Regions from separate parts of the Homo sapiens genome. Here region 1 is linked to region 2. The links come from fine-mapping of genetic effects on gene expression. A gene starts in region 2. The other region holds a variant in brackets. All regions are shown on one strand. Distances are between the middles of the regions.

Region 1 (10,961 bases), 120 kb after region 2:
TATATCTGACTTGTGTTACTAACATAATGTTTTCAAGGCCTATCCATTTTGTTGCATATATTAAAATTCGAATCACTTTTGTGGTTGAATAATATTCTATTACATGTTTATATGGCATTTTGTTTATCCATTCATTTGTTGATAGTTACCTGGGTTGTTTCTACATTTTAGCTATTGTGACAAATGCTGCTATGAACTCTGATAACCAAACAATCTACTCCAGTCTCTGCTTTCAATTCTTTTGCATTTATACCTAGGAGTGGAATTGCTGAGTCATATGATAGTTCTAGTTGAAGAACACACAAAATCTTTCATAATCAGACTCTTGGATTTATTTTATTTATTACTTATTTATAACTCACCACAAGTGAGTTAGAGCATGTTTTCATTAATATATGCTTGGTGAAACATTTGGATTTTCTCTTCTATGAATTATCTTTCCATGGCCTTTTTCAATTTTATTATTGGGTGACTTGTTTCCTTCTTTTAAAACCTCTGTTCATTATGAAATTTTGCCTTCTGGCTAAACTCTTTATTAAATTTATAACACCCCCCACACCAAAAAAAAAAAAAAGATAGTTCTATGTTTAACCTTTTAAGAAACAGAGAAACTATTTTCTACGATGGCTGCAGCATTTTTGGGGGGCTCAGTGTCTATTGTTTTATTTCATTTCCGGTTGCAGCATTTTATATTCCCACCAGCAATGTACAAGGATTCTCGTTTCTCCACAGCTTGTTTTTTTTCCATTTGTTCATTTGTTTATAGCCATTTTAATGGGTCTGGGTGGTTACACATTGTGGTTTTCATCTGCATTTCCCTGATGACCAGTGATGTTGAACATTTTATCGTGTGTTTATTGGAAATTTGTATATCTTTTCTGCAGAAATGTCTGTTAAAGTCCTTTGCCCATTTTTGAACTGAGTTTTTTTGTTGTTGAATTTTAGAGTTCTTTATATATTCTGGATATTCATGCCTTATCAGATATGTGGCTTGCAATATTTTCTCCTATTCAGTAGGTTGCCTTTTCATTCTCTTGGTAGTATCCTTTGATGCTCAAAATTCTGAATTTTGATGTAGTGCAACTTACCTATTTTTTCTTTTATCGCCTGTTTGCTGTGAACTTTTTTCTTTTAACCAATAGGAACTTAAATTACATTTTAAAGAGTGAGTCCATTAGATATATTGAGTTTATCTGCAAGTTTGCAGAATGGAATAAAGTGAAGCTTCCCTGCACTTCTGAGCCAAGTGCCAGCGAGTCACGCGTGGAAGGATAGGGCTGAGGCTGCCTTGGCTGCTTGGCTGGGTGGCTGGAGAGCACACCTGGCAGAAGATCACTTGGTTCTTAAGTAAGGACAGCAAAACTGGCTTCTTCTTGGTTAATTCACAGATGGTAAAGACAAAGAGATGTTCTGTGTTTGAATATGTGTAAATACCTTAGATAGTGCAGGAGTCACAGTTGATGGTAGACACAGCTTGTTGGACTTTAGAGGTGGAGATTTTTGGACCTGAATCCTAGTTCTGCCACCTACTAGGTATGGACCCCAGAAAAACAATCTTCTAACGCAGGGGTCCCCAACCCCTGGGCCATGGACCAGTATCAGTCTGTATAGTCTGTTAGGAACTGGACCACACAACAGGAAGTGAGCCAGGGGCCTGTGAGCCAAGCTTCATCTATATTTACAGCCACTCCCCACTGCCAGCATTACTGCTTGAGCTCCGCCTCGTGTCAGATCGGCAGCGGCATTAGATTCTCACAGGACCCCGAGCCCTATTGTGAACTGTGCATGTGAGGGATTTAGGTTGCAGACTCCTTATGGGAATCTAATGCGCGATGATCTGTCACTGTCTCACATCACCCCAAGATGGGACCATCTAGTTACAGGAAAACAAGCTCAGGGCTTCCACTGAGTCTATGTTATGGTGAGTTGTATAATTATTTCATTATATATTACAATGTAATAATAATAGAAATAAAGTGCACAATAAATGTAATTGGCTTGAATCATCTTAATACCATCCCCCCCATCTCGGTCCATAGAAAAATTGTCTTCCACAAAACTGGTCCTTGGTGCTAAAAACGTTGGGAGCTGTTGTTTTAGAGCCTCATTTTTTTTTATTATGGGGTTTGTAACATTAAATACTTAAATGGTAGTCCTAAAGATGAATCCTATCTAAGGTAAACAAAATGCCTCATGGTACCTGGCATATAGTAGGTGCTCAATAAATCATAGTAATTATTAAAGGAATGATGACAAATCAAGTATTAATATCATTTTTAAATGTAAAAAGGATAATAATATTAATAACAATAACAAACACTATTTGAAAAACATTATCTTTAGGTGTTCACATCTCTTAACTCATTAAGGTCTCATAATAATCCTATGAGGCATAGATTATTATTACTCCCATTTTACCAATGAAAAAATGGAAATACGGAGAGATTAAGAAGCTTACAACTGATCGAAATTGCAGACCTGGAATTTGAATCCAGGCAGCTGTTTTGCATGGAATATTTCTCACTTCCATTAAGCCCAGTGGATTCTTTTCTGTCTTTAATTATGTTGCTTGTACTCAGAGCAAAGGGTACTGATCCTGCCATTAGGGCAGAGGCTGGTAGCTGCTTTCTCTTTGTGCCGCCAGGATAGCATTTACTGTACCCTCCCTTGCGTGTTCTAGCCTGTGGCTAAGACATCGTTTGTGACCTTAGAGAGATACCAAATAGATGCTGTGGTTCTAGACTTTGCTTCCATCCACCACTAGGCAAAGCCTGTCCCAACCTCATTGAAACAGAGGTAAAGTCATGCCCATGGGGCACTTTTTTTTTTGTTTGTTTGTTTTGAAACAGAGTCTCACTCTGTCACCCAGGCTGGAGTGCAGTGTCACAATTTCAGCTCACTGCGACCTCAGCCTCCGGGGTTCAAGTGATTCTCATGCCTCAGCCTCCCCAGTAGCTGGGATGACAGGCGTGCGCCACCATGCCTGGCTAATTTTTGTATTTTTAGTAGAGACGGGGTTTTGCCATGCTGTCCAGGCTGGTCTTGAACTCCTGACCTCAGGTGATCCGCCTGCCTCGGACTCCCAAAGTGCTGGGATTACAGGCATGAGCCACTGTGCCCTGTCAGAGGACACATTTTTAATTTTCAGAAACATCACCTATAATTTCACCATCATTATTAACATTTTGGCATTTTTCTCATCTAGTCCTTTGTGCATTTTCCCCTACTGTTACCTCACTACTGAAATTTTACTTTATAAGCAGTTTCATATACTACTCTTTTGTTTAAGACATTATGAGCATTGTTTCCTTGTATTATAAATTATTTATAAATACAATTTTTTGACAAATGAAAGAATTACACACTTCAACAAATATTTTAAATGATACTGAAAGATATTTTGATGCATATACCATTGTATATATGAATGAATTTTTTTTGTTGACATAATAGATCATATGACAGACACTATTCTACACTTTTCCTTTTTTTTCCTTCTCTACTTTACCCCTAAATACAGAGAAACATACAAATTTGAAACTAACATTTCCTTTTTATTTTCACCAAATCTCCTTCATTGATTGATATTTTTCTTTTTCTTTTTTCTTTTCTTTTTTTTTTTTTTTTGAGACAGAGCCTCGCTCTTGTCACCCAGGCTGGAGTGCAATGGCACAATCTCAGCTCACTGCAACCTCTGCCTCCCGGGCTCAAGTGATTCTCCTGTCTCAGCCTCCCGAGTAGCTGGGATTACAGGTGCCGGCCACAATGCCGGGCTAATTTTTGTATTTTTAGTAGAGACGGGGTTTCACCATGTTGGCCAGGCTGGTCCCGAACTCCTGACCTCAGGTGATTCACCCACCTCAGCCTCCCAAAGTGCTGGGATTACAGGCGTGAGCCACTGCCCCCAGCCATTAATATTTTTAAATACAAAAGTAATACATGCTTATTCTAACAATTGAAATCATATAAAGATACACAAAGTAAAAGCAAATCATCTCCTTTAGCCTCATCTTCAACCCCATCGCCTTGAGCTGCCAATGCTAACACCTGTTGTAGACTTTCCAATTTTTCCCTTGTTCTTTCAAACAGATGCAAATGCACATTTACATATAGGTAGATTCTTTTTTGGTTTGTTTTTACCCAAATATAATTGAAGTAAACCCATTAGTCTACAATTTGTTTTTGGATCTCCCCCAACACCAGGATATACCGGGAACATTCCTAACAATTCAAGACATATGGCTCAATTGTATATTTTTTTCTTTTCTAATTTCTTTCTCTTTCTACCACTACCACAAGTGTGTGTGTGTGTGTGTGTGTGTATTTGGTCTCACAAGTCTTATTTGCAGTTTGTCTTTGCTGGCACCTCTGCCCACCTTGTTAATAGGCCTACATTTGTTCCAGGATGTTCCTAGCTCCTAATCCTACCCGTCTAGGTGAAAGGGGTACCACCTAACTGAACACACTTGAGAGACCCAATTCAACCTGATGCCTGATCCTTGAAGTTAAAGAGAATGGGGGACCTGTGGCCCAGCACTACTGCATGTAGAAAACCATGGAGCACTTATTTCCTGAGCTTCTAGGCCCAGAGTCTTTGAGGGAGGATGCTGTGGATAAAAGAGAGCCAATAAATAAAACCCCTTTCTTCCTGTGAGTTCTGCATCAGTCAAGATATAGAAACAGGGGTCAGATGAAAATATTACCTTACTGATGAGCTATGCTAAGGACACAGCTTGGAACTACAGCCACCATGAGCTCAAATCAAGTTACCCATCCATCCCCACTCCGATGCGTACCCATAGTCAGAGCTCGATGACCCCTTCAGACTCTTCCTAGACAGGGGGCTAGGTTTGGCTGTTCCTCCTTCCCAATCTGACCACTCAGAGACGCCACTCAGAGACACCAGGCTTCCTGATTTGTTGAGGAGTGAGAGAGTTGGAAAAATTGGTAGTTGAAAACATGGGTAGATGTTTACTCTCCTACTTCTGCAAGGGTCTTTTGAAAGGGAAGAAGTTCCAACTTTAAGGGCTGAAGCAGGAAGGTTTGGATGGGAGATACTCCCCTTAGATGACATGCTGAAGGGTGAGTCATGCCACACAAAGTAGTTTCTACTTCAATCTGTTGTTCAACAAATATACTCTTATCATTATGATCATACCAGACAGGTACTACATATCCAGCTGGGGATGGTGTACATTTTGAGAACATCTCTCAAACCTTTAGTGGCAGCTGCACTTCTGAGAGCATGTTTTCCCCCCATGAGGTTTCGCTGGAAAGACCCAGAAATTCTGAGCATGACTGTTGCACACCCACGTTGCAGGAGGATGGGGACAGGGTGACATGCACCCAGAGACAGCATCCACCCACAGCTCCATTTGCTCAGCTGCCAAATGAGGTGGTTGATTCAATTATCTCCCTAAGGACCCAACTGTGTCAAACTTCTGTCATTCTGAAACACCACCACCCCCGTAACTGCTGAGGACCACCTTG[T/C]CCATAAATAAACTGGCAGAGCTAGGTAAACTTGCTGAATTTCCAAAGGCCAAGACACCAGAGAGTTCTTTCAGTCTTGATCAGGACAGGATTGTACTGCTAAGCCAAGTAAGCAAGGTTGGGACACATCACTACTGCAAATATGACACTCTCTGTACCTGTAAAAGCCACCTCATAGGGACTATAAACTGGTACAGCCTCTTGAAAGTATTCATCAAAGTAAAAAAATAGACACCTCTCCTTTGTTATGGTTTGAATGTTTGTGTCTGTCCAAAATCCATGTTGGAATCTAAGACCCAGTGTGATAGTATTAAGGGGTGGAGCATTTTGGAGGTGAATAGGCCATGGGGGCCCTGACCTTGTGAATGAAATTAGTGCCCCTATAAAAGAGGCTTCAGAGAGCTGCCTGGCCCTTCTATCTCTTTTGCTGTCTGATGACATAGAGTTTACCCCTTCCACCATGTGAGAACATAGCAAGAAGGTGCCATCTTGGAAGCAGAGAGCAGCCCTCACCAGACACCAAGTCTCACCTGCCAGTGCCTTGATCTAGGACTTCCCAGCCTCCAGAACTGTGAGAAATACTTTTCTATTATTCATAAATTACCCAAAGTCTCAGTCTGTTTTGTGCTGCTATAGCAAAATGCCACTGACGGGGTGATTTGTAAACATTAGAAGTTTGTTTCTCACAGTTCTGAAGGCTGGGAAGTTCAAGATCAAGGCACTGGCAGTTTTGGTGTCTGGTGAAGGCTTGGTCTTTGCTTCCAAGATGGTGCCTGGAGCATTGCATCTTCCCGAATGGAGAAACACTGTCCCTCACATAGCAGAATAGTGAAACAGCCTACTGTTGAAAGTCCTTTTACTAAGGTATTAGGCCAGGTGCAGTGGCTCATGTCTGTAATCCCAGCACTTTGGGAGGCTGAGGTGGGAGGTTTGCTTGAGCCCAGGAGTTTGAGACCAGCCTGGGCAACATAGCAAGACCCTGTCTCTATAAAAATAAAATAAAATAAAATAAAATAAAATAAAATAAAATAAAATAATTAGCCATTCATGATGGTGAGCACCTGTAGTCCCAGCTACTTGTGAGGCTAAGGTGTGAGGATCGATTGAGCCCAAGATGTTGAGACTGAAATGAGCCATGATCGTGTCACTGCACTCCAGCCTAGGCAACACAGCAAGACCCTGCCTCAAAAAAAAAAAAAAATAGTTAAACCCACTCATGAGGGTGGAGCCTTAGTGTCTTAATCACCTCTTAAAGGCTCCATCTCCCAATACAATTACATTGGCAATGTATTTCAACATGAGTTTTGGAGGGGGATAAACAGTCAAACCATGGCACCCAGTCTCAGGTATTTTGTTATAGAAGTACATATGGACTAAGACACCTTTGATCCAGCAATTTTACTTCAGGAAATTTATTTTATAGAAATAAATTATACACATCTCCAAGGATAACTGTACAAAAGATATGTATTGCAGCATTCCGTGTAATAACAAAAAACTCAAAATAACTTAAATGTCTATTAATAAAAGATAGGTTAAATAAATATGGTTCATATATAGAATGGGATAGCCATGCAGCTATTAAAAAATATAATAAGGAGACTCTGTAGATACTGACATGGAGAGCTGTCCAAGACAGAGTTTGATTGAAAACAGTAGGATGGGCTGGGTGCGGTGGCTCACGCCTGTAATCTCAGCACTTTGGGAGGCCGATGCAGGCGGATCACCTGATGTCAGCAGTTCCAGACCTGCCTGGCTAACATGGTAAAATCCCGTCTGTACTAAAAATACAAAAATTAGCCAGGTGTGGTGGTGTGCGCCTGTAGTCCCAGCTACTCAGGAGGCTGAGGCAGGAGAATTGCTTGAACCTGGGAGGCGGAGGTTTCAGTGAGCCGAGATTGTGCCACTGTACTCCAGCCTGGGTGACAGAGCCAGATTCTGTTTCAAAAAAAAAAAAAAAAAAAAAAACAAGAAAAAGAAAAAAAGGAAAGAAAAAAGAAAACAGTAGGATGTCCACTTTATGTGTTTAGTGTGACTACATTTTTTTGATGTGTTGGTGGGGAGTACTTGTATATTCTTAGAAAATAAAAACACACATCCCAATCTCTTAACAGTGTCTACCTTAGGGGTCTGAATTGTCTGCATTTGGGTGGGGTTATTGGAAAATATTGGACTTTTATTTTATTTTATTTTTTTATTTATTTTTGAGACGGAGTCTCGCTCTCTCACCCGGGCTGGAGTGCAGTGGCATGATCTTGGCTCACTGCAACCTCTGCCTCCCAGGTTCAAGCGATTCTCCTGCCTCAGCCTACCAAGTAGCTGGGACTACAGGAGCCTGCCACCATGACCAGCTAATTTTTGTATTTTTAATAGAGACAGGGTTTCACCATATTGGCCAGGCTTGTTCGAACTCCTGACCTGTGATCCGCCCAACTTGGCCTCCCAAAGTGCTGGGATTACAGGCGTGAGCCACTGTGCCTGGCCTTAATTTTAATTTTTATATATGTCTATACTCTTCAGTTTTTTTTAAAACAATAAACATTTATTTGTTACTATTATTTTTACTTATAAAAAATACTTTTTAGAGACAGTCTCATTCTGTCACCCAGGCTGGAGTGCAGTGATGTAATCATAGTTCACCGTAGCCACGAACTCCTGGGCTCAATGATCTTCCCACCTCAGCCTCCCGAGGAGCTGGGACCACAGGTGCGTGCTACTATGCCAAGCAGCATTTATTTTTTATTTTTTGGCACATACACAGTCCCCTCAATCCTCAGAGGAGGAAGAGATAGCCTTGGCCTCTGCTCCCCTGCTTTCTCATCATAGAACGTAAGACAGTGTCAGGGCTGAGTCAATGGAAAGGAAATGTGTTAAATCGAAAACATTAAGGTGACATCACCTTGTTGAAAGCCCTCAGGGACATCTTTGACATCACTGACAGACAGGTCCATTCCAGAGTGCATGGGATTTGATTTGTAAACTAGAGGTTTGATGGGTCTGAGTTCACAGGTAGGCAAAAATGCTGCTCCTCTGAATGAGAAAACACTGAAAACAGCACCCAGCCCACGCATCACCCAGTTTTAAATATCTCTTGGTGGGATCATTTCTGAGCCCCACTATCTTGTGGCAAACCACGTTTTCCATGGTGCCCAACAAGAGTTTACACACCTGCTTGTTTTCTATGATTTACTTCTTCTATGGCTGTATTTGTGCAAACCATACACAGTGGTTGACAGAGAGATGAAGGTACTCGCCTTTCTATGAATGGTTGAGAAACTGTCTACAAACCCTTTCCTGGGTGGGTAAACTCGATGTTGCCTGACCTCACAAATGTTAAGAAAAATAAGATTACATCACAGTACTATCCAGGCCCCAATTATGCTGGATCTTTCCACCCTGTCAACTGTAGAACCCCAAGAGCCTTTCAAGGTTAGTCTTCTCCTTCCTGTAGAATGCCTGGGAGTTCCCTGGAGGTATCTTTAATGTAGACAATGATCTTTGGCAGCCTCTTGTCCCACCACTCTGTGTTGGCCTCTGGGGTATATGTCTCTTGGGATTCTCTTCCCACTCTGGCCAGAACCACAGCTTGCTGCTTGTAGGGCTGCTCTCCCCAGGCACCTGTGGCCTCCTCAGTGGGGCTGCCTCTCACACCACGGATGCAGACATAATCACAATTTTTTTCCCTAGTGTGCTTCTAACTAGATGGAACTCAGTGGGTAATAGAGGATACTATGGTATGGAATGCCACCTAACTCAACAAGCTATATGCATCTGAATCTCTGCTGTGGGAAGCTGAGACCCTCCACCATACTTGTGAAGCACTGAAAGGACCCTCCAGTGGCAATGTGAAAGACTATTGGGTAAGACAAGTGAGGAAAAAAGCAATAATGAAAGAAAAGGAATATAGCTGAAGACTAAGAGGGGCAGCAGGTAAACTGCTAAGAGAATGATGAAAGAATTTTAAGGCTAGTGGGTCAAAGATTTCACTGTTTCAGTCTTCAACCGGAGGCTGAATGAGTATCTCTGAGGGATTCCATGGCGAGAGGTTTTACAGAGTAAATCTTTGATATTTGGGAAAAATACTTACTAGAGTATTTACTAGTACTTACTAGATACTTTGGAAATCCCCACACATACAGATACCGTTATAACAGAATTTAATGTTAGAAATTTGGGTCAGAAGAAAAATATTAGGGCCCCAGCAAAGTATGTGAGTTGGGCATTTAGCAAGGCCAACTCTTTAGCCAACTGACCTGCTCCTTCACCACTGGCTCAAAACTTGGATTCAAACTTGTACTCCCTCATAATTACAAAAGAGTATGTCATGGATTTTGAGATCATGTGTCAACAGCTGCAACTGAGAACATCATGCAGCAGAGTGCTAAGGATCTATTATACAGTGCAAGGAGTTGTGTTGGGCCATGTCTAAGAGCTCTCCCAATTTGGGATTATCACAATGAAGTGTGACATTATTTTCCATCATACTTCATTGACCTAAGCAATTTACCCACAAAGGCTAGATCTTCAGTTCACACCCTGAACAAGTCCTGTCAGCCTGAGAATCCCTCTAGATGAGCCTGTTTCTTTAAAACAGTTCTCAGCCTTCTCCTGGGCTTCAGCCAGGCCTTGATGGCCAGGGATGGATTCTGTATTTTTCCGTGCACATAGAACTTCTTTGTTCCTTCTTTCTGACTTATTTTCCTCCCAAATAAAGGGCAGAGGAAAGGAGATTATCGAAGAAAGTCTGGCAAATGGGATGCAAGTTATCCAGTTGTACTATTCAGTGGGAAAATCTGGCTGTAAGCCTAGGAACTTAAAATGATGTTTCTAGATTTGAAAATATAATCTCAAAATGCTTCCATTTTGTGAAGGGTCAGTCCCCAGCCTCCATGCATAAAAGATAGACGGGAAGGACTAGGCAGGTGGAGAGTCATGATCGGGGGTACAGGGAAGAGTGAGGGCTTTTAGAAAGTGGTGTGGCTATAGTTCAGAGTCCTCACCCACCTGGGGTCGGGAGCTGTGGGTTTTCCTGTAGTGCTGCCTCTGAGCACTGTAATCTTGGGCACATCACTTTGTTTCTTTTCACAACTGAGTATCCTCAATGTAAAGATAAGAAATTAGGCTGGGCATGGTGGCTCATGCCTATAATCCCGGCACTTTGGGAGGCCGAGGCGGGTGGATCACCTGAGGTTGGGAGTTCGAGACCAGCTTGACCAACGTGGAGAAACCCCGTCAGTACTGAAAATACAAAAAATTAGTCAGACATGGTGGCACATCCCACTGTAATCCCAGCTACTCGGGAGGCTGAGGCAGGAGAATTGCTTGAACCCGGGAGGTGGAGGAGAGCCAAGATTGTGCCATTGCACTCCAGCCTGGGCAACAAGAGCAAGAATTTGTCCCCCCAAAAAGAAAAAGAGACATTAGACCAGATGTTCTAGAAGATTCCTTCCATCTCTATCAGCCATGGATCT
Region 2 (10,961 bases):
GATTTTTTTTCAAGGAATTTCTTGGCTCGGGAAAGTGGCCACCCTTTCTCTCTCCCTCATTTTTCTGAGCAGTCCATTTTTGTGGGTGGAGCCCACCTCTCCTATAAGCACCCAGGATAAGCCCAAGGAAGTTGTGACGGTCTAAAGGGTCAAATTTCACTCTCAATTTACACCTACATCTGTCTTTAGTTACTTTTGTTAGTTGGAGACATCCAATGTAAATGGTGTCTAACATAGTGAGTTTGCTTCATTGTAAAAAATCACCTGTAAGACCTAGCAACTTATGCTTCCAGTCCTTGGCTGTCATGGGCATTGTATTACATTTGTAAGCAGAAACTACCATATTTGCAAGCAGAAAAGCGAGTCATTTTCCCTTTAGGTAGAAAAGGTATGCAATATTGACATCCCCCAGAGCTGTGCTGTTTGATGCCATTGCCCTCCTGGGGAACTGAAGACAGAGAGAGCAATGGTGGGGCTAGAGAGAGAAAAAACAGAAAAATGTCACCAGAGTTTCCAGAGCTGTTAATTGTGTTCCTCTCCCCCCACATTCATCAGTGGCCTTAGTGACTGTTTTCTACAGAAAGGGTAATATCATGGGCTGTATGGTCAGGCCCTGGGCTATTGGATGCTATCCGGTACTATAGGGTGAGTGGAAGGAGAAACTGGAATATCTAGATGATCTTCCCCATTTCTCCAACAGCTCCAGGACAGCTTTTAAATTAGAACTGACAAAGGCTGAGGGAAGTTTTAGGTAGGTGGAAAGGAAGGTAATGTTTTTATACCTGCAATCTTTTTGCATAACAGATTATTTTGTTATTTGGGGTTAATAAAGGCAAAGAATAGGGTAAGAAAAAGCTCTTTTTGTCTTTCTCTAATGACCAGGGGAGTCTCAAACTCTAATCCAAGGATTTACGAATGAGAGAGAAAGGGATTTCAAGAAGTGTATTGTGATAAAATCTGAAAAACTAAAATTTCCAAACTGACTCTAAAAATGCCTTACAAGATTTTAAATTAAATGAGTTTTAAAAAAATTACCCCACTGGAAATCCTTTACTAGCAAAGATAGAAAACATTAGATTTTTCGTTATTGCTTTTAGCAAAAGTCGGGTAATCTGAGGAAATGTAAAGGCTAGGCTGTACTTTCTTGATATTAAGCGAAGTTTACCTCCTGCCACCTGCATGGAGTAACCAGTTCAACGTGGTTGAAGTAACCCTTCAACGTGGCAGAAATAGAAAAACTGAATTTTAAAATGCAATTAATAGAATTAGATAGCTTTGGCTGGACATGCTACTATCACTTCTGAAAATACTCTTGTTGCTTTTACTGCTTCTCCTAACCCCTCCAAGAATGGCAGACACCAACCATCAAGCCTTCCACTGGCTTCCTGTCCTGCTTTACAGACACGCACAGGCACACCTGAAATGAGACATACATACATTCCCTCGCTGGAAAATAAAATGAATTACTCCAGTAGGAAACAAATTCTCCAACCCTTCACCAATTCAGGCATTTACTAAAGATAATCTAAGGGGCTTTTTCTTCCTTTGCTTCTCAAAATTCCCCTTTAGGTCTCTGCCCCAGAGCCCCCTCCCGGGAAACCACATTTGCTCCACTGCACTGGCTTCCAGGCATGGAAGGGAGGTGTATCTGGAGACCTGGGAGACACCTTGATTTCCTTCCCCAGCCCCTTCCCGCAGAGCTGTGGGAGCAGATACTGACTTTTTCCTTCTGACCTCTCTAGGGATGCCTTTCCATTAGAGGGCAAAGAGGAAGAAGAGGAACTGGGTTAAAGATGGCCTCTGCTGAACACATATGTCAAAATCAGCTAAGCTAAACCGAATAGGGCCCAGTTAACCTCAACGATGTTCACCACAACAGAGCAGGCTGGAAGATTCCCCCACCTCTCAATTTTAGGTGCTTGCTTCCAAGGGCAGGCTCCCTTTGGAAGCAGAAGCTGAACTTCTGGCTAGGAGGGGCTATTCTAGAAGAGACCGAAGCTAAATCTGTGGCCCAGGCCTGCACACCTCCATCTGCAAGGATGTCCACTTTGAGATGCAGAAGATGATTCTCCCTGCCCGCGTCGGGGCCGACTACGAGAGGCAGTGCAGGCTCCAGGAGGAAACAGCCCTTAAAGTACTTCTCTTATGTTGGCCAGGCACCTCGCCACCCACCAGAGGGCTGTCATTTTACCTAGAGGCCTGTACTACCCAGTCACTAGCCTCGCCCAGAATCTCCAGGGCTCTCGAATCGGTCTGGCTGGGGAAATGGAGGAGGTTGGGGAGGGAGGACTCTCAACGGGATTCACGAGGGACAGGGAAATGCCGCGCGCCCTGGGGATAAATCTTAAAAAATAATCCCTCTCTCCCCGGGAGCGGGGCCTAAGTGGCTGCACCCCCGGAAGCCCAAGGGCCGAGGTCCTGGAGCTGCCGCTCTAGGGCGGTCCCCTCGGGATTTCTTCCAGGAAGGAAAGCAAAACACAACAAAACAAATCCAGACTCCACGTGGGGCTGGAACCCAGTCCCAGCCCTGCTGTGTTCTAGCTGGTCCCGGGTTTGGACGCCAGCGAAGGAAGGCGCGCCCGCGCTCTCCATCGGGGGGACTCGAGGGCAGCGCCGTGCGGGGAACATCCCGGCCAGCCCCGGCCATTCGAGGGGACTTGCGTCCCAGAGGAATTGCCCTCATCTCTCCCACCAGCGCCGACAAGCTCAAACAATGGCGCGGACGCCCACCCTGGTGGCCTAACCAGGACCTGGCCCCGCTCAGCCGCCAGGCCTTCCGGGACAAGCCCCTTCCTGGCACTTTCTCTTGGAGCGCTTTGGGGAGAAGGGAGGGGGACTGGGCTCATTTGGAGGAGCAAAAGACAGCCCTCGCGGAAAAAGAAAGAAAAATCAGCAAAATCGCCTTAGCAGTTCAACCAAAGGTCAACAGCAGCGTTTCCCCAGCAGCTGACAGGTCAAATGGGCAGGAAACAACTGCGGGGAACAAAGCCCCCCGCTGTCCGGCAGGGGCGAACCCGGCTCCTCCGCACTGAACAGTTTTGTTGTGCTTTTTGGAGGGGAGAGGTTTCCGCCCCCTTTCCAGCTCCCTTCCTCCCGGGTGGACAGGTCGGAAGAGGAGCGGAAAGGAAAGGAAGGGAGGGAGGCGGCGAAGGCGCCTGCGGGGGGGAGGAGCGGCTCTTTGATGGGTGTGGGGGGGTCTGAACTGCCTACCGGGCTCGGAAGCGCAGACCCTACCCGCGCGGAAGAATGCGCGGAATGCGGCGGCGGGAGGCGGAGGCGCAGCGCGGCGGGGGGCGCCCGGACCCCACGCGCCCTGCCCGCTCCCTAGCCCGAGGGCCGCGGACCCACCCTGCCCTGCAGGTGTGGCGGGCGCCAGGTCCCTCCAGGGACTCGGACAGCACGCGATTTTTCCAGGATTTCCGACTACCAAATGTGACAAGACAGTCTCGCCGCCGAGAGTTTCGCCAGGGCTCGCTAAAATCCGGCACGCGCCGCCATCAGATAGTCGAAAATCCGGGCTGAACAAAAGGTGATCATTCTCCGCTGCCCGGATTTGCAGGCGCTAGAGGACCGGTTCCGCCCGGCGTCCCCCAGATACCCAGTCCTTCAGCCTCCCGCTCCCAGAGCCTGGATCTAGCCCGGGACGGGGATTGGCCACCTTCCAAGCTGAGCTTGGAGTTGGGCAGCGGGAACGCAGATACAGATCGCTCTACACAGTGTGTGCAACCCAATCTCCCTTTCTGCATTTGCCAGGGTCTTGTTTTCAGTGAAACTGGCAAGGCCAATTGTACCTCGGCGCCCACCCCTCTTCACCTTTTCTCCACCTCTGGGATTCTCCCGGTCCGGCTCAGTGTAGGGCCCCAGCACGCCAAACCAACAGGCCTATCTTGTCCCCACGCGCCCCGTGGTACTTGGAAACTGTTCCCGGGACTCAAGATGGACCGCGCAGAGGAGTCGCTTCATCCTCGAGGCTAGGACCGTTAATGTCAATAAACGGGGCCTCGCTAGGACGGTGCGGAATTGCAGGTGACCGGAGAAACCCGTCCGCACTTTCCCTGAGGACTTGAACCTCGCACTTGCACAGAAACCTTGCAAACCCCTACACACCAACACACACAAAGGGGCGCGCGGGGATCCCCGCAACCACGAATCACGCCGGGGACTCCTTCCCGTGCCAATAAGGCGCAGGCCGCCAAGACCCCCTCCATCTCCCCGACTCCAGCTAGCGCCCGGAGCCCTCGTTTACCTTTGAGCAGGCAGATGTCGGTGCGCTCGGCGTTGCGGCGCAGCGCCTGCACCACCAGCGACACGGTGCTGTCCTCGCGGAGGCTCTCGGCGCGCGGGCTGCGCTCGTCGTAGACGATGACCGCCGAGTAGAGGCCGGAGCGCAAGCGGGCGCGTACCTCCTCCTCGGCGGGCAGGATCTGCTCCAGGCTCACGGAGCCCTTAGCCCGCCGCCGCACGATGGTGTTACAGCGCACGTTGACCGAACCTAGGATGTAGCCCGCGCTGTGCGCCAGGAACGGTCTGCAGTCCAGCAGCAGGCACTTGCCGCCGCTCGGCAGCCCCAGGGTGCCGTGGCTGCCGCTGCCGCCCGCGCCGCCGCCATTCTCGTCCCGGTTCATCAGCCTTTTGAGCACACTGCAGTCCATCTCCCGCAGCTCCTCCATCGTCACCATGGTCGCCGGGAACCGAGGCGGCTGGGCGCGCGAGGAAGAGAAGAGAACCCGGGCCGCCTAGGCTGCAGAAAGGGGCGGGCGAGAGCTAAGAAGGGACGCCTGCAGAAGTGGCCGCAAACTTGGTCCTCAAGGGCTCCCGCGGGAGAGCCTCTTCTTCCCTGTCCCCTTCCTCCCGCAGCCTCGCGGTCACATAGCAGTCGGAGCGGCCTCGGGCGCCCAGCCGGGCGGCGCGCAGAGCGGAGGGGGAGGCGCCGGTGGAGGAGAGTGTGTTTACGAGAGAGGACCGCGGACTCTTTTCGGCGACGGCCTCCCGTGTATTTTTGCCGGTCGCGCGGCTCCTGTCGCCACTGGCGCCAGCGCTGCCCTGCCTACGCTCCTCCGGCGCTCAGCGCACTGCCCCAGCCAGAGTTTTCTCCTCGGCTTAGAGGTTTATTAATGCTCCTCCGCGCTCCCGGGGGAGGGGGCGCTAGGTACTACCCCGCCAGGCCCCGCCCCGTTCCATTCCGGGCCCCGCGCCGTCCCCCGCCCCCCGCGCTGTCCCCCGCCCCCCGCGCTGACTCCCCGCCCCCTCCGGGCCCCTCCTCCCACCCCCTCCCCGGAGCTTGAATGGAGCGCGGCCGCTGGCTCCCGGTCACGGGAACTCGACGTCACAAAGAGCGGAGTAAACAGGGCGCCGGGTGCTCGCCATCAGGCCCATTCATAAAACCGAGGCCGAGAGGAAGAGGGAGGCGGCCTCCGACCCGCCGCCAGCGGCGGGCAGCGCCCGGACTTTGTGAATGGAGCGCGCGGCGCCTTTCGCCGTCTACCCGCGGGCCCAGCCTGCGCCGCGCCTCCAGCCCGACACCGGCACCTGTGCCGCCGCTGCACCCCGCCGCTAGGCGGGCGGCGCCAAAGGAAATAGCCGGCTGAGGAGGCCAGGGCTCGGGTTTGAGCTTTCATCCCTTGGCACCTTCGCGCTTCCCCGCGTGACAGCCCCGTAGGTTTTTCCCGGTTACCCAAGTGGAGAGGGGACCGGAGCGCTGCTGCCCACCCAGCGGGGCCTGACACCTCCTAGCCCCAGACTCCCCGTGCGCTTTCGGCCCGGCCAGTCCTTTCTGAATATGCGATTCCTGAGACGTTAGCGTATGCATTAGCGTGATCGATTTTCATCTAAAGCCATTAAATCAGTTTTATAGCTTCCCCAAGAACGTGGGCAACCCCCTGCTTGGAAGATGAAAGAGAAAGTCCTCCCGCCCGAAGCCCAGGATCGGAGTGAGGTGTGGGGTTTGTTGCTTTACTACCCAAAGGGAGGCATTAATTGCCGGAATGGTGTTCCGAGGGAGGAGAGCAGGCTGCGCTCCTGTCCACGCTTCCTAAAAGATGTTTATTTAACCCTGGTCGGGGGAAAAACAAGGTTTTCGGGTTTGGGAAACGTCTTCACCCTATCTTGCATAGTTGTGAATTATCCTTTCAGGAAATGACAGGGTCCACATTTGTTGCGGAGCTGGACCCTGGAAAATGTACCCGCAAAGAATGACCTTTTGAAAGGACTTCAGCAGCTCTGGGTCCGATTCATGTTTCTGGGCATCCCTTTTTCCTGGTCACGTAGCAGCCCTCCCCATCCCCATTTCTCTTTTGCATTTAATTTCCCAGAGGCGGCTTTTGGCTGGGGGTTTGTGCACGCACGCGGTGGGGACCGTGCAGAAGCCAAAAATCATTCGCCCGACATCTTGCCAAGTCTTGTTAGTGAGAATTAATCACAGAGCAAGGGAGTTACAGGACTCGCTCGCAGTTTCGGAGGCTGCAGAGTAGCGTATTCCATTCCGGGGCGCGCGTGGAAGCCCGACCCAGGCAGCGAGGGCACCGGTACCCGCCGGGTCTCTCCCGCCCAAGCTCACCCTCTCCCCATGCCTTTGTTCCGGGCGGAGCGGCTTTCCCGAGCTCTCACCTCCGGTCCCGGGGGCCATCCCTGCACTCCCCGACCGGAGCTCGGCGGAGCCTCCACTTCCGAGACCTTCGACTGGCCTCGTCCCCCACTGGGCCCCGAATGCCTCGACCCCCGGGCCCTACTCGGATGAGCTGTAGGGGCACCGCTTGGGCAAGGTGATATTTCCTTTTGCTCCGGGCTCCAAAATGGCTTACGATGGCACTGCACGGATCCTTTCTCTTTTTAAAATTTAGTATTTTATTCATCATGGATTTTTTGCATTTTTTTTTCTTTTAAAGAGGCATTGCATCAAGATATTTCTTTTGATTACTGACTTTTCGGCGCCCTTCTTAAATGTTGCGCTCAAGGCTTGTGCTCACCCTAGTCCAGGCCCTGGAAGGAGCCACAACTGTGGACTGACCGAGGCTGCCCGGTGGCAGGACCCTGGGCGTCGGGCACTCCGGGTGGGAGATCAGTGGTCAAAGCCGCACGGCGTGGCCTCCCTGTGGGGAGGGCAAAAGGTGTCTGAGTCCAGTTTCCCATTCTGCTGAATGGGACTGTGGGGGTCTATCTAATAACTCGCTTTCGATAAGGAGCAAGGAGCCCCAGGGGCCCCGACAGTCCAAGGCTGATTTTGCTTTCCCGGGTTGCTCTCCAGCAGCTCAGAAATCCGCCGCCTGCCAGGACCCAGGGCCGGAGCTCTCCCGGCGCAAGTAAACACTGATTCCTTTACAAAGGCTTTAACAAGACATTTCTGGGAAAAGCCTCTCAGGAGGCAGGTCCGGGCCAATTTCACGCGTGTCGCAGGAGCTGGGGAGACGTCCCTGGGGCGCACGGGTCGCGCTCTGGGCCAGCTTTTGTCTACCCTGTTCTGGGGTCGCCTTCCCCGCCGGACCCGCGCCTGGCGCTCACGTGGCCAGTAAATAACAGTCAAATCCAGGGGGAGGAAAATGCCCATAGAACAAAGAGGCTTGCTTTCTGCACCTGACAGTAATCGCTGGTGGAGAAGCCCTAAATCCCGCAGGCGATTCACACGGAAAGGGGTGTGGGAGGGCGCGTGTGAGTGTGTGTGTCCACGTGTGCGTGCCCGCGCCTACGCGGCTGTTCACTGGAAGGGAGTCACAGCTTGGGACTTAATGTGTTTAAGCCGAGAGCCACTTGAATTGCGAAAGCGAAGGCCTGATTTTTAAAAAAGACTAATTTTTAAAATCCACACCCCATTGCCAACTCAGGAATTGGCCTTCAGTTGTGTGAATTTCAGCAAAGGAGATTTAAGTTACCATATTGTATTTATCGGGATACTGTGTAAACACCCTAGATATATATTTTTTAATTGTATGTTTGTGAACCATTGGTCCACAGTTAAATGAGTACAACGCGAGGGCTACTCCATGCCGGCTATAGATAAAACCTGTCTCCAATTCGTCTGCAGTCTGTGGACGAAACATAACCATTTTAAACAGGAACCTTGTGAAACAGCTTGTCAATGAGCAGATCTTGGAGAAAACAAAGGCAATTTGGAGCAAGACACGGAATGTCATTTCAAAGTTAATTTAATTAACTAAGGCATATTTGTAGGAATTGGGATGGGATTGCCCAAGGAGAGGTCTTTTATTTATATTCAGCAGTAAACCTCGGGGTGAAAGAACTTTTAAAAATTCGCTGTGACAAGTAAATCCAGCTTCTCTTTCATCAGTCAGTCCTTAGACCGACCTTATTAGTCACTGTCAGGCTCCAGCAAAACACCTGCTCTTGTTTAGGAACATTTCTTTCCAATTAGGAAGTTGTATGATCGGGGAATCTAAAGCCCGGAGTAGAATCCCCAGAGAGAAGTACAGCTTCTATTCTAGTTTTGATGCCAACCTCTGACTCACTGCTCTGTCCCAAAGTGCCTGAATAAAACTTGCCTGAAAAATCATTAATGAATTAATTAAGGTGGTGATGGAAAGAAAAGTCCTGTGGCTTTTCCTTTCTTGAGCAAAGAGGCAGCCTTGCTATTACGTCGAACTGGAACAGGAATAATCCATTTTGCACAGATCTTGTTGGTTAGGCTTCTTAGATCAACTAATTAGGGAACTTGCCCCCTGGTAGTGGGAAGGCTCAAAAGAACTGGGAGACCCTCTCCTGCTCCTGAAAGCAGAGAAGCCTGTGGTCTACACAGCGTGTTCTTAGGCAACGTTTAGAAATGGAATTGAGAAATGCCTGTCCTTCCCTACGTACCTCTGCCCATCAAGTCAGGACTGAAAGCGAAGGAAAGTCTTCAAAGTTCACACTGAACCTAACCAAAAACTCTCAAAGACATAGCCTGAGGATTTCTTTTTTTAAGTCCTGACTTTGTTACAGATCTTTTTTGTTTTCTATGCTTGATACTCTAGCACTTATTAATGATTTAAAAGGCTATGTATCGGCCAGGCGAGGTGGCTCACGCTAGTAATCCCAGCACTTTGGAAGACCGAAGTGGGCAGATCACCTGAGGTCAGGAGTTTAAGACCAGCCTGGTCAACATGGTGAAACCCTGTCTCTTCTAAAAATACAAAATTAGCCAGCATGACGGGCGCGCACCCATAATCCCAGCTACACTGGAGGCTGAGGCAGGAGAATCGCTTGAACCCGGGAGGTAGAGGTTGCAGTGAGCTGAGATCCCCTCACTGCACTCCAGCCTGGGCGACAAGAGCAAAACTCCATCTCAAAATAAATAAATAAATACAAATAAAAAATAATAAAAGATTAAGTTTCTAACCCAGGGTCTCTGCAGAAAGGTTTTAATGCATTGCTTTATTTACTGCTTTATTTTAAAACTATTCAATCTAGGCTATGCCACCATCTAGCTTGGTGGCCTTGGGCAAGACAGTCTCCTTTGGCCTCACTTTCTTCACCTGCAAAATGAAGAGTTTGGGCAGGATGGTTTCTCAGGTCTGGTCTATTTCCGACCCTGTATGATTCTGAGCAGAAGAAGACTTCTCAGCTCCGAGTCCAAGTTTCATAGGTTTCCCATCTCGCCCTCTGAAGAGCCAAGCACACTATAATGCCATAAGATAAAGGACGATCTCTAGCTCCTCCTTGTCCCTGCTTTAGAATATAAACTCATGGACAGCAGAGCTCATAGTTTTTATTTATTTGTTTAGTCACGTGCTAACGTCCCAAGCATTTTGATAAAACGTCTTCAAAATTTCAGAAACAAATTTTGGAAAGAAACACTTCTCCAAACGGGATAAAAATGAACTCGGAGGCTGGGCATGGATGGTGGCTCATGCCTGTAATCCCCCAGCACTTTGGGAGGCTGGCGGATCACTTGAGGTCAGGAGTTGGAGACCAGCCTGACCAACATTAAAAATACAAAAATTAGTCAGGCATGATGGTGGGTGCCTGTAGTCCCAGCTACTCGTGAGGCTGAGGCAAAAGAATCCCTTGACCCGGAGAGGCAGAGGTTGCAGTGAGTCAAGATTGGGCCACTGCACTCCTGCCTGGACAGGGCGAGACAGCGAGACTCCATCTCAAAAGACAAACAAACAAAACAATACAAAACAAAACTAGGTTATTTGGGGTCACTCTAGCTGTGCAGATTCTCTTATTCATTCAACAAACGTGCTAGACTCAGCAAGAGGTGCGGGAAGTAGGGGGACAGATTTGTCCAAAACACTGTGCCTTCAAAAAGCTGACAGTCTCATTGGTCTAGTCAGGGTGTGATTGCCACTGTACATTGCCAGAAAGCAGGATCTAACAAAGTGTCATTAGAGAACAAACAGCATGCCAGGAAGATTCAGAAGAGAAAGGGATGGAGCCGTGTTGTGAGATTAGGGAAATGGAGGAAAAGGCCATCATGAATAAAGTGCATTTCATCTACTTAAATGTTATCCTTGAAATGTCCTTGAGTTCTCTTGTAGGTTTTTTTTTTTTTTAAACTGTTATCTCACCTCTGACATTCATTCTGCCCTTGTGCCTTGTATTCTTTTCCTTTCATTTGTTAGCATCTCTCTTCCCCAGTGGGTTTGCCTGCTAAAAATAGATGAGCAATTGGTGTGAAACTACAAGGGAGCTAAGATGATGCAAAAGCTCTGTAGAAAATCTGTGCCATGGATGAGCAACCGACCTAGATGGTAGCTGACCTAAGTAAGGGCCCGACTCTTTCATTGCCATCTTAAGCAAGTCAGTTGTTCTGTACTTTGATTTTACCATCTGTAAAACAAAGGAAAAACAATGTAATTATTGTTTACATTTTATATTTACTTTTTTCAGGACAACAAAATGTCTAAATCACCTTTCCAAGGCTTCAACAATGAATGTATTTTCCAAATCAATGTTGGAGTACATGGTCAGAAAAGATGTCTTTTGGACTTGTGAAATTACTTATATAAAAATTCTTACCAAGATGGAAG

The links. PIP is the estimated chance that this variant, and not a neighbour inherited with it, causes the effect.
Region 1: its variant is fine-mapped to the expression of DUSP4 in whole blood (INTERVAL, PIP above 0.99). The same link has a PIP of 0.9 or more in blood mononuclear cells.

Annotation. Positions count from the first base shown.
Region 1 is chr8:29,464,100-29,475,060 of GRCh38, forward strand. No RefSeq gene overlaps it. Among named protein-coding and RNA genes, the nearest start is that of LINC02948, 93 kb to the right of the region's middle. RefSeq lists an enhancer at 5,150-5,519. The variant T/C (reference allele first, on the strand shown) is at 5,491.
Region 2 is chr8:29,345,600-29,356,560 of GRCh38, forward strand. DUSP4 (dual specificity phosphatase 4) reads right to left here and starts at 5,085. Exons shown (of 4, transcript NM_001394.7): 1 at 4,247-5,085. The coding sequence starts at 4,679. It overlaps LOC124901924 (a long non-coding RNA gene), which reads left to right and starts at 5,375. Exons shown (of 2, transcript XR_007060876.1): 1 at 5,375-5,935; 2 at 10,822-10,961. RefSeq lists silencers at 3,203-3,372, 4,943-5,262, 5,453-5,592, 9,782-10,080 and enhancers at 4,083-4,584, 4,113-4,262, 4,585-5,084, 5,783-5,852, 5,893-6,002.